Linked DNA regions of Homo sapiens: region 2 is linked to region 1. Evidence: fine-mapped expression QTL. A gene starts in region 1. The other region holds a variant in brackets. All regions are shown on one strand. Distances are between the middles of the regions.

Evidence for each region. PIP is the estimated chance that this variant, and not a neighbour inherited with it, causes the effect.
Region 2: its variant is the best candidate, but not a certain one, in a credible set for the expression of ACSM5 in subcutaneous fat (TwinsUK, PIP 0.51).

The regions. Positions count from the first base shown.
Region 1 is chr16:20,406,737-20,412,113 of GRCh38, reverse strand. ACSM5 (acyl-CoA synthetase medium chain family member 5) reads right to left here and starts at 2,580. Exons shown (of 14, transcript NM_017888.3): 1 at 2,449-2,580; 2 at 426-644. The coding sequence starts at 629.
Region 2 is chr16:20,590,572-20,595,948 of GRCh38, reverse strand. It overlaps the pseudogene LOC112267906. Among named protein-coding and RNA genes, the nearest start is that of ACSM2B, 17 kb to the right of the region's middle. The variant G/C (reference allele first, on the strand shown) is at 2,154.

The sequences.
Region 1 (5,377 bases):
TCGGTGTCCCAAAGTGCTGGGATTATGGTCATGAGCCACCGCGCCCGGCCTTCTTTCCTTATTTAGAAGAGAAGGGCGTGACAGTGAGAGAAAAACATCAAAGACAGAGTAGCAGCAAAACAAAACTTCCTCCTTCAGTTGATGAACAACTGGAAGGGAATCGGAAGGGACATAACTGTCTCACTGTGTGATTTGGGCTCAAGAATGCAGGACACTTCAGAGAAGGAACAAGCATGTCTAAGGCTCACAACACTGACTCAGAATTTTTTCCTAAGTCTCAAATGCCAACAGTTTACATTTTAGAACTAGCAAAATTCCCAGGTCCAAATTTCCTCATCAACATGCTTGGAGCCTTGAGTCTCATTGTGGTACATGAGGGCAGCCTCAGATGCCCCAGATGGACTCTAGGACAGAACAGGCTTCACCTCTTCCAGCCGACTCCACACATCCAGCACATCATGGGCGAAGTTGAAGTACTCAGGCACCAGCTGCCTTCCCAGGCTGATGGCTTCCCAGGTGGCCACGATCTTCTGAGGAACAGGTAGAGGTGCTGGCTTCCCATGAGACCCACAGAATGCCCTGGAGTTCCTCAGTGCCTGGAGGACTAGGTGTCTCAGCCATGGTCTCATGCAGTCGCCTCCTGTCTGTCACCAAAGAGAGGAAAGAGGGCATTGTCATAAATTCTGGGCTTTGGGGACAACACATAGGTTAGGAGAAACCTGTGGTTAGTGCTGATGGTGACTGTGATCCTTACTGACTTGTAGAATAAACTCTCCACCTTCAGTCTCAGTTCTGCTGTGTGATGGTCATTTCTCTCCTCTGACCCCGAGGTCTGTCCTTTTGACCTCTCACTGACTTGTGGGTATCTGGGTCTGAGGTCAGAACTCAGATCCCACTTCTCAAACCTCAATACTTCAAAAGGAATCCCTCAAAAAGGCTTTGGCCAATCCTGAACTGACCTTGCAAAGCTGAAGACAGCTCTAGGGCAGCACTGTCCAACAGAAATAGAACGTGAGCCACCTGTGCAATTTACAATGTTCTAGTACTTCCATTAAGAAAAGTAGAAGCAGGTGAGATTTATTATAATAAAACATTTTATTTAACCAGATAGAGCCAAAGTATGACCATTTCAATTCCTAGTCAATAGAAGAATAAATTGTTAAAGAGATATTTTACATACTTTTATTTATTTTTTGTTTTTTTTGGTACTAAGTCCTCACAATCTGAAATAGACTTTACCCTTACAAACACATGTCAATTTGGACTAGCCACACTTCAAGTGCTCAAAAGCCACAAGTGGCTGCTGTATGGCATGATGGGCTTTTAGTGTCTTTTTAATTTTTTTATTTAATTTTATTATTTTTAAAATTTTTATTATTGTTGTTTTTGAGACAGAGTCTCACTCTGCTGCCCAGGCTAGAGTACGGTGGTGCCATCATAGCTCACTGCAGCCTCAAACTCAAGCAGTCCTTCCACCCCAGGCTTCCTAGTAGCTGGGACTACAGGCACTAGCCACCATGTGTGGCTAACTTTTAAAAAGTTTTTTTGTAGAAACAGGATCTCACTATGTTGCCCAGGCAGGGCTTGAACCCCTGGCCTCAAGTGATCCTCCCAACTCGGCCTCCCAAGTGCTGGGATTACAGATGTGAGCCACTGTGCCCAGCCCAGTTTTAGTGTCTTGCTACTCAAAGTGTGATCTTGGGACCAGCAGATGGGACCCCACCCTACATATGTAGAATTAGAATCTGCAAGTTAACGGGATCTTCAGATGAGTCATATGCATGTTAAAGTTTGAGAGGCACTGGCCCGGGAGCTGCGTGTGACCTCAGTTTCAGTTTCCTTGCATTAAATTCCTCTTAGTAATAATAATAACAAAATATGGTAATAACAACCAACAATAATAACGTGGCACAACAAGAAAAACCATAACAGCTTCAGTCTATTGAAGGCCTACTGTGTACCAAGCATTTTAAGAGTGCTTAGAGGCATTATTTCATGAAATCTTTATAACAACTCTATGCTGTAAATGTTATTTTCTCCATTTAAAGATAAAGAAAATGAGGCTTAAAGGGGAAAAGTGACTTTCAGGTTTCACTTCCTGGAAAAACATAGGCCCCAGCCTCTGCAGTGGCCACCAGGCCTAGGCCTGCAGCCTCAGAGACTTCCTTTCTCTGACCCACCTCTCCCGCCCCTCACCTCTCCCGCCCCTCACCTCTCCCGCCCCTCACCTCTCCCGCCCCTCACCTCTCCTGAACTGAGCTCTGCCCCAGTCCTTTTCCTCAGTCTCCCACCCCTGGATTCCTCAGCCACCTAAACAGCTGATAATTTAGAATCCCCAGGCCTCCTTCCCATTCCCCGACACCATTTCAGATGTCACTTCTTGATTTAATCAGCAAAGGCCTCAGAGGCAGCTGATACCTTCGTCTGAAAAATTTCTTTCCAAATTACCTTGCTCTTGAACCAAAGTAATGCAAAAGGTCTCTGTTTTCTGCTTCAGCTGAGCAGAGCAGGGCTGAGTGGCTGTAAACACTCAGCTCCCTCAGAAAACAGCCTCCCACAGGGAACTTCAGCCCCAAATGCAGCCAAGAGTGGGCAGAGCCAGAACCCAGCAGCTGACACAGTGGCTTCCAGTGGTCAGGGTGCATTGAGCCAGTGAGAGTGGCCCCCTGCCAAGTTTTCTCAGTACTCACAGTGGCTGGAAGATCAGACCTCAACTGTCGTGCCTGGTGGGTGTGCCCAAACTGGTGGATGTATTCCCTAAAAATTCAAGTCGCCATCTAATCGGAAAAAGCAACAGGAAGATTATGACGGGTTTTTTTTTTTGTTTGTTTGTTTGTTTTGAGACGGAGTCTCCCTCTGTGGCCCAGGCTGGAGTGCAGTGGCGCGATCTTGGCTCACCCCAAGCTCTACCTCCCGGGTTTGCGCCATTCTCCTGCCTCAGGCTCCCGAGTAGCTGGGACTACAGGCGCCCACCACCATGCCCGGCTAATTTTTTGTATTTTTTAGTAGAGACGGGGTTTCACCGTGTTAGCCAGGACGGTCTCGATCTCCTGACCTCGTGATCCGCCCGCCTCGGCCTCCCAAAGTGCTGGGATTATGATGTTTTAACAGAAAAGGTGCAATAGTGATAATAATATAAGTCAGACTTTGTTTCTTTTCTGCTTAGAACCCTCCAGTAGATACAGAGAGAACAGAGGAGTGGTTCCAGGGAACGGCTCTAAGGCATCCCTTTGAAGTCATAGAATTGTTCTAAATTTGGATTGTGGTCATGACTGCAGATCTCTGTAAATTTACTACAAAAAATAGTAATAATAATTGTACACTGCCAAAAGAAGTTTTTTGGGTTTTTTTGTTTGTTTTTGGAGACAGGCTCTTGCTCTGTCGCCCAGGCTGGAGTGCAGTGGCGCAATCTTGGCTCACTGCAACCTCCACCTCCCGGGTTCAAGCGATCCTCCCACCTCAACCTCCCGAGTAGCGGGGAATATAGGCATGCACCACCATGCCTGGCTAATTTTTGTATTTTTTTGGTAGAGATGGGGTTTCAACATGTTGGCCAGGTTGGTCTCAAATTCCTGACCTTAAGTGATCTGCCTGCTTTGGCCTCCCAAAGTGCTGGGATTATAGGTGGGAGCCACTGCACCTGGCCCAAAGGTGGTTTTTCGAAAAAGCTTCCTGCAACTCCCTATCTCACTCACAGTCCAAGCCAAAGTCCTGACGATTGCCGGGTGGGATGGCTCACGCCTGTAATCCCAACACTTTGGGAGGCCAAGGCGGGCGGATCACGAGGTCTGAAGATTGAGACCATCCTGACTAACACGGCGAAACCCTGTCTCTACTAAAAATACAAAAATTAGTCAGGCGTGGTGGCGCCTGTAGTCCCAGCTACTCTGGTGGGCGCCTGTAGTCCCAGCTACTCTGGAGGCTGAGGCAGGAGAATGGCATGAACCTGGGAGGCACAGGTTGCAGTGAGCCGAGATCGTGCCACTGCACTCCAGCCTGGGAGACAGAGTGAGACTCCGTCTCAAAAAAAAAAAAAAAGTCCTGGCAATTGCCTACAGGGCCCCACAGGAATTCCTGTGAGCCTTTCGCCTCAAACCTCCTGTCTCAGTCTGCTCCAGCCATACCGGTCTTTTTGTTGTTTGTTCTCTGAAGTTCTTTTTAAATTATTTTTAATTTTTGTGGGTACATAGTAGGTATATACATTTATGGGTTACATGAGATATTTTGATACAGGCATGCAATGCGTTAGAATCACATCAGGGTAAATGGGGTGTCCATCACCTCAAACATTTATCCTTTGTGTTACAAACAATCCATTTATACTATTGTAGTTATTTTAGGTGTATGGTTACATTATTTTTGAAGATAGTCATCCTATTGTGCTAGGAAATACTAGGCCTTATTCATTCACTCTTACTACTTTTTTGTACCCATTAACCATCCCCACTTCTCCTCCAACTCCCTGCAACACTTTCCAGCCTCTGGTAACCGTCCTTCTACTGTCTCCATGAGTTCATTTGTTTTCCTGTTTAGCTCCCACAGGTAAGCGAGAATGTGCAATGTTTGCTTTCTATGCCTGGCTTACTTCCCTTAATGTAATGACTTCCAGTTCCATCCATGTTGTTGCAAATGACAGGGTTATGGGTGTCCTATAGAGAGGATGCTGAGCCATTAACTGCCTATCTTTGCAGTGATTCAAACTTCACCCTGGATTTTTATCCATCACTGTATGTTGTTCCCCTGTGACTCTGTCTCATTTCCTGGCCTGGCCAGTTTGGCCCATTTCCACGCAGGCAGCTCCTCTCCCTTGCCGCCAAGCTTGGCCACAGGGAACCATCTTATGAGCCCTCAATGTCCATTTGCTCAGCATTCAGTCCTCTACTGCGACCCAGGATACAACCTCATCTCTGAATCTGCAGCCAGATGTAAAGATACAATCTCTACCCTCAGAGGGGTGGACGGACTGTTGAACATTATTTCTCCAGCAGTCTAATCTCAATATCGTTACTCTCAATCAGTACTTTTTAGAAGAATATATAATCATAAGTCATGACAAATGTTTCATAAATGTTCAATGAAAGAACTGGATACACTTTATAGACAATATAATCACAATTTTATTTTTAAAAAGTATATATTAATCCCATACGTAACAAAATATGAATGTTTCTCTAAGTAAGATGATGTATGATTTCAATTAACTCATTTTTTCTGTATGTTCTATGTTTTAGAAATTAAATCCTGTTCTTTTCTAATCAGAAAGAAATTAATGTTATTTTATAAAAAGAAGCTTTAAGCCGGGCACAGTGGCTCACGCCTGTAATCCCAGCACTTTGGGAGGCCGAGGTAGGTGGATCACCTGAGGTCAGGCGTTTGA
Region 2 (5,377 bases), 180 kb before region 1:
CTTCTCTGCTTTGGTACTGAGACTATAAAGATGCATTTGGCTCCATCTTCATGGCCCCACCCCAGTGATTCTAAGGACATCTTTCACCCTTTGTTTTTGTTTAGACTCTCTCCACATTCCCAATAACCACCCTCTGCTGTGTTCCAACCATCTTTCGGCTGCTTGTGCAGGAGGATCTGACCAGGTACAGCCCATCTATTTCGTGCTTTGAGGGCCTAAGTATGTGAATATATAGCATGGGTATCCACACACACAACTACCCTCTCATTCCAACTCTCTTTCTTTCTCTGTCTCCCCCTCTATATATTTTTCTGCCTCTCTCTTTGTCTCTCTCTCCCACACACATTTATACACATACACATTGACAAGTCAACATACCTGTAAATCTCACAGATGCCCCTCAAGAACAAGCTTCTGGCCCCCCAAAATTTGCATCCAGATGGAACTAAATAGATTTAAGGCAGACTGAAATTTTAGCACCTGAGATAGGCTTCTCCTCACACCATACACCCATGGGCTATTCTGTCAGCAGTGTGTCTGCTACTTCTGTGAGGGAAGAGAAATGATTGGACAATTGTTAGCCACCTATGGAGTGCGGTTTGTGGCCAGGGCCCTCAGGTGTGGTGAAACTAACAAGCCCGCACCACAGTAGATGCCCCAACTCTCAGCCTCAGAGTAACCCCAGCCAACTGTTCTCTGAGCACATGTCATTGGACACCCAAGAGAAAGGGACAAGGCACTGATGATGGCTCCATCCTGGGTGAAGCCAAAGCAACATCTTCTAGCAGAACAGGGCTAGTTGCTGGGGTATATGGAGAGAGGCCCACCATCCTTCAGTATCCACCAACCCTGATCTGTTCTCCCTCTTTTGTCCTCCCCCAAGTCATGAGGAGTCGTCCTTTCTTCTTTCCTAATCACATGAATCTACCCACCAAGTGTCCAAAAGAGGGAGTTCTTACATGTTTCTAAAAGTGAATTCTTCTCCAATGTAAGAAAATCATCCCATTCATTGATCTGATGTGTGCATCTCCACATGATGATTTTGGCTGAAAGCAAGCTCCAAGTACCTCGTTAAGAACAATGTCGTTGAATGCTCTTTGGTAATAATAAGTAACTTAATCAAGCCAATTTGATCTCCCCTCTCCTCCAAGATTAAAAATGTACTTACAATCACTGATTTTTTTTTAATAGTTTGGATGATTTGTTGAACAGAGAGGGCATTTTGCAACATAATTAATATCTGTAGGAATTTTTGGGATTCTTAGGGGTCTAATTTTTATCTTTTCAATTTTCTTTTCTTTCCTTTCTTTTCCTTTTTCTTTTATTTTTATTTATTTATTTATTTTAGAGACAGAGTCTTGCTCTGTTGCCCAGGCTGGAGTGCAGTGGCATGATCTCGGCTTACTGCAACATCCGCCTCCCAGGTTCCAGCTTTCCTCCCACCTCAACCTTCCAAGTAGCTGGGACTACAGGCATGTGCCACCATACCTGGCTAAGTTTTAGTACTTTTTGGTAGAGACGGGGTTTTACCACGTTGACCAGGCTGGTCTTCAACTCCTGAGATCATGCAATCTGCCCACCTAGGCCTCCCAAAGTGCTGGGACTACAGGTGTGAGCCATGGTGCCTGGCCTATCTTTTCAATTTCTAATTGATCTATCCTTTTCAATCAGATTACTGTCCTAACCAATTTATTATCAGTTTTTTTCCAACTAAATTATTTTGGCCAAGTTACCTGGAACTCACCATATTATGCCAAAACCTATTATATGAGCTTCTGATTTTATCTCAAACTCAGATGGGATGGATCTTTTAAAAATTATCTGTCCATGAGGAGCATGGTTGCAAAGCCAGTGGGTGGACTCACTTAGAGAAGATTAAAAAGCAGGGGCATCTACCTCTAGTGCCTGTGGTGTTTGCATCTGGGCAGTGGCACCAGAGGGCGGGGTGGTATGAAGATCCTGACATAGGTGGCCTTGTTTTCCTGCCTGAGGAAGGTACCAGTTTCAGAGCCTGAGGCACTGTCTGACCGGAGGAGAGGCCCTCAACCCTGACGTGAGGGAGAAGTGGAAACGCCAGACCGGTGTGGAGCTGTACGAAGGCTATGGCCAGTCTGAAACGGTGAGTGCTGGAGGGGCCAGGTCCCTACCCCCCA[G/C]GTCCCCACCCCCCAGGTCCGCTTGAGAGCTTCCTGCCTCTCCAGCTGTCACCTCTCTGAAGCTTCTCAGGGACCACCCTTCCCCCAGGGGAGAAGCCGATAACAAAATTCCATCAGCTTTCCTTCCCTTTTGATTTCCATATGTTCTCACTTATAAGTGGGAGCTAAGCTATGAGGATGCAAAGACATACAGAGTGGTATAAAAGACTTTGGAGACTCAGAAGGAGGAAGGTGGGAGGAGGGGCGTGAGGGTAAAAAAACTACATATTGGGTATAATGTACACTACTCAGGTGACAGATGCACTAATATCTCAGGATTCACCAGTATAGAATTCATCCATGTTACATAAAACGCTCGTACCCAAAAAGCTATTGAAATACACACACACACACACACACACACACACACACACACTACTTATAAATTAAAAAAAGGTAATTTAAAGTACTTTTACAATTATACCATGACCAGCAAACCAGCCCTCACTGCTGAAGGCATTGTTTGTCTCCACCAAGACAGTCTACATCTGCCACTGTTCAGAGTCCAAGATTCTAAGCAGCGTCCTCTATAGTCATCTAGGAAGAGATCTGGGGATCAACTGAGTCTTTTGGCTTAGAGATGGGTTAAGTTCTTTATGTTTGAGTGCCCACTGGAGTGCCCCATAGTTGTTTGCTAACTATGGAAAGAAAAGAAGAAAGACAGGCAAGAAAGAGGGAAGAAAATGAAGAAGGAAGGGAAAGAGGAAATAAAGGAAAGAGAAAGGAAAAGAAGGAAGGAAGAGGAAAAAGATGAAAGGAAGGAAGGAAATAGGGAACAAAGAAGAAGGGAGGAGAGAGGAAAATGGAGAATGAAATAACGGGTTAAGGAATGAAAAAAGAAGGAGGAAAGAAAATGAAGGAGGGAAGGAAGAAAACAGGAAAGGGGAAAGAAAGGAAAGAAAGAGGAAAGGAAGGAGTGAGCAAGGAAGAAAAAAGAAAAGAAAGAAGGGAGGAAGAATGGAGAGAAATGGAGAGAGGAGAAGGGAAAGAAAGAAGAAAGTGAGGGAGGAGAAAAAAGAGGATGAGAGAAAGAGTTATCAGGCAGGGTGAGAGAAAGGCATGGCCCAGGAAAGAAGCTAAGTGGAAAGGCTCTTCTTTATCTGTACTGAGTTCTCCCCAGGTTGTCATCTGTGCCAATCCAAAAGGCATGAAAATCAAGTCTGGATCCATGGGGAAGGTGTCCCCACCCTACAATGTGCAGGTAGCAGACTCCCCCAACTTCTGGCAAGGCCTGGCGTGGAGAGGAGAAAGACACACAGGCCTGGCTGGCACGGGCTGCTGGGCTGCTGGGCTGCTGGAGGGGCCCAGGGTGTAGACACTCATGTATGCACCTCTGTGATGATCTCCTTACCAGATTGTGGATGATGAGGGCAATGTCCTGCCTCCTGGAGAAGAGGGGAATGTTGCCGTCGTATCAGAACCACCCGGCCCTTCTGTTTCTTCAATTGCTATTTGGTAAGAGACGGGGAACAGCTGTTCTCATGACGGTGACTGTGTGCTAAGCATTGTGCACCACACTTTGTAAGTATCTATTTGTTTAATCCTTACAATGACTGCATGAGGTAGGTTGCTACTATTATTAATAAAGTTCTGTTATTGATAAGGAAGACTATTATTAATAAGGAAGCTACTACAAAGGGGAAGTGACTTATCCAGCATCATGCAACTAGTACAGGCAGGACATGGGATTTAAACGTGGGTGTGTCTGAAAGCGTAAACATATGACATGAGGGCAGCACCGTTGTTTTAATGAGGAGAAAATCGAGGCGCAGTAAAGGAAAGGAGCTTCTGAAGGTCAAACTGCAGCCGGTTGCGGTGGCTCACACCTGTAATCCCAGCACTTTGGGAGGCCGAGGAAGGTGGATCACCTGAGGTCAGGAGTTCAACACCAGCCTGGTCAGCATAGTGAAACCCCGTTTCTACCAAAAATACAAAAATCAGCCAGGCATGGTGGCACACGCCTCTATTCCCAGCTACTTGGGAAGCTGAGGCAGGAGAATCGCTTGAACCGGGGAGGAGGAGGTTGCAGTGAGCCAAGATCATGCCACCGCACTCCAGCCTGGGCAAGAGAAGGAGACTCTGTCTCAAATAATAATAATAATAATAATAATAATAATAATAATAATAATAATAATAAAATAAATAAATACATAAAAGTCAAACTGCACTATTGTGTCAGAGCTGTCTTCAGGATTCTTTTTGTGGTTTGCTAGCAGGGCACAAACCTGGGATTTCAGTCCAAGTTTCTGGGATAATTCAGTAACTGCTTCCTTTTGTATTCATCTTGGCTGGTGTTTATGTCGGGCTTTCTTTTCTTCACAGCTTTCTCTCAGGTTTAAGCAATTCTCTTGCCTCAGCCTCCCAAGTAGCTGGGATTACAGGCATGCACCACCACACCCAGCTAATTTGTTTATCTTTAATAGAGACAGGGTTTCACTATATTGGCCAGCTGGTCTCAAATTCCAAACCTCAAGTGATCCACCCACCTCAGCCTCCCACAGTGCTGGGATTACAGGCATGAGCCACCACACCCGGCCTAGCCCTTCACTTTCTACCCTCAGTGATTCCTGAGCACAAAGAGTATTCATGTGTTCTCTTGTCCTAAAAACCACAGCCAGTGGCCCTGTGCCCACCCTCCTGCTTTCAACTATGCTTTCTAGACCCCCTTCTAAGGATGGTGGTGGGTGGCTGCCCTTAACCATTGGCTGGCAGCTTGATTCCAATCAAAAGAGGGAAATCCCACAACTAAACAGGGCCATAGCTCCCTGTCCATTGGGGAACTCTGGGCAGCTGGGACTTTAGGAACTGCTGAACTTTCTGTTGAGTGGTCTCCAGCTTCCTACAGGGGGCTACTGGGGCAGTAACTGGCCTTAGCGGTTGTTCCCAGAGGGTCCTTCACGGGTTGTCTTTGTCTTTCAGGACAATCCTGAGAAGACAGCTGCATCAGAACAAGGGGGCTTTTATATCACAGGGGAGCGAGCTCGCATGGACAAGGAAGGCTACTTTTGGTTCATGGGAAGAAACGACGATGTGATCAATTCTTCAAGGTCAAGCTGTCTGCACTTTCCTCCTCCCTTTGAAGTTTCATGGGGGTTGACGGAAGCCCACTTGGAAGAGTTTGTTTTTCCCTTCCAGCTACCAGATCGGGCCTGTTGAAGTAGAAAGTGCCCTGGCAGAGCATCCTG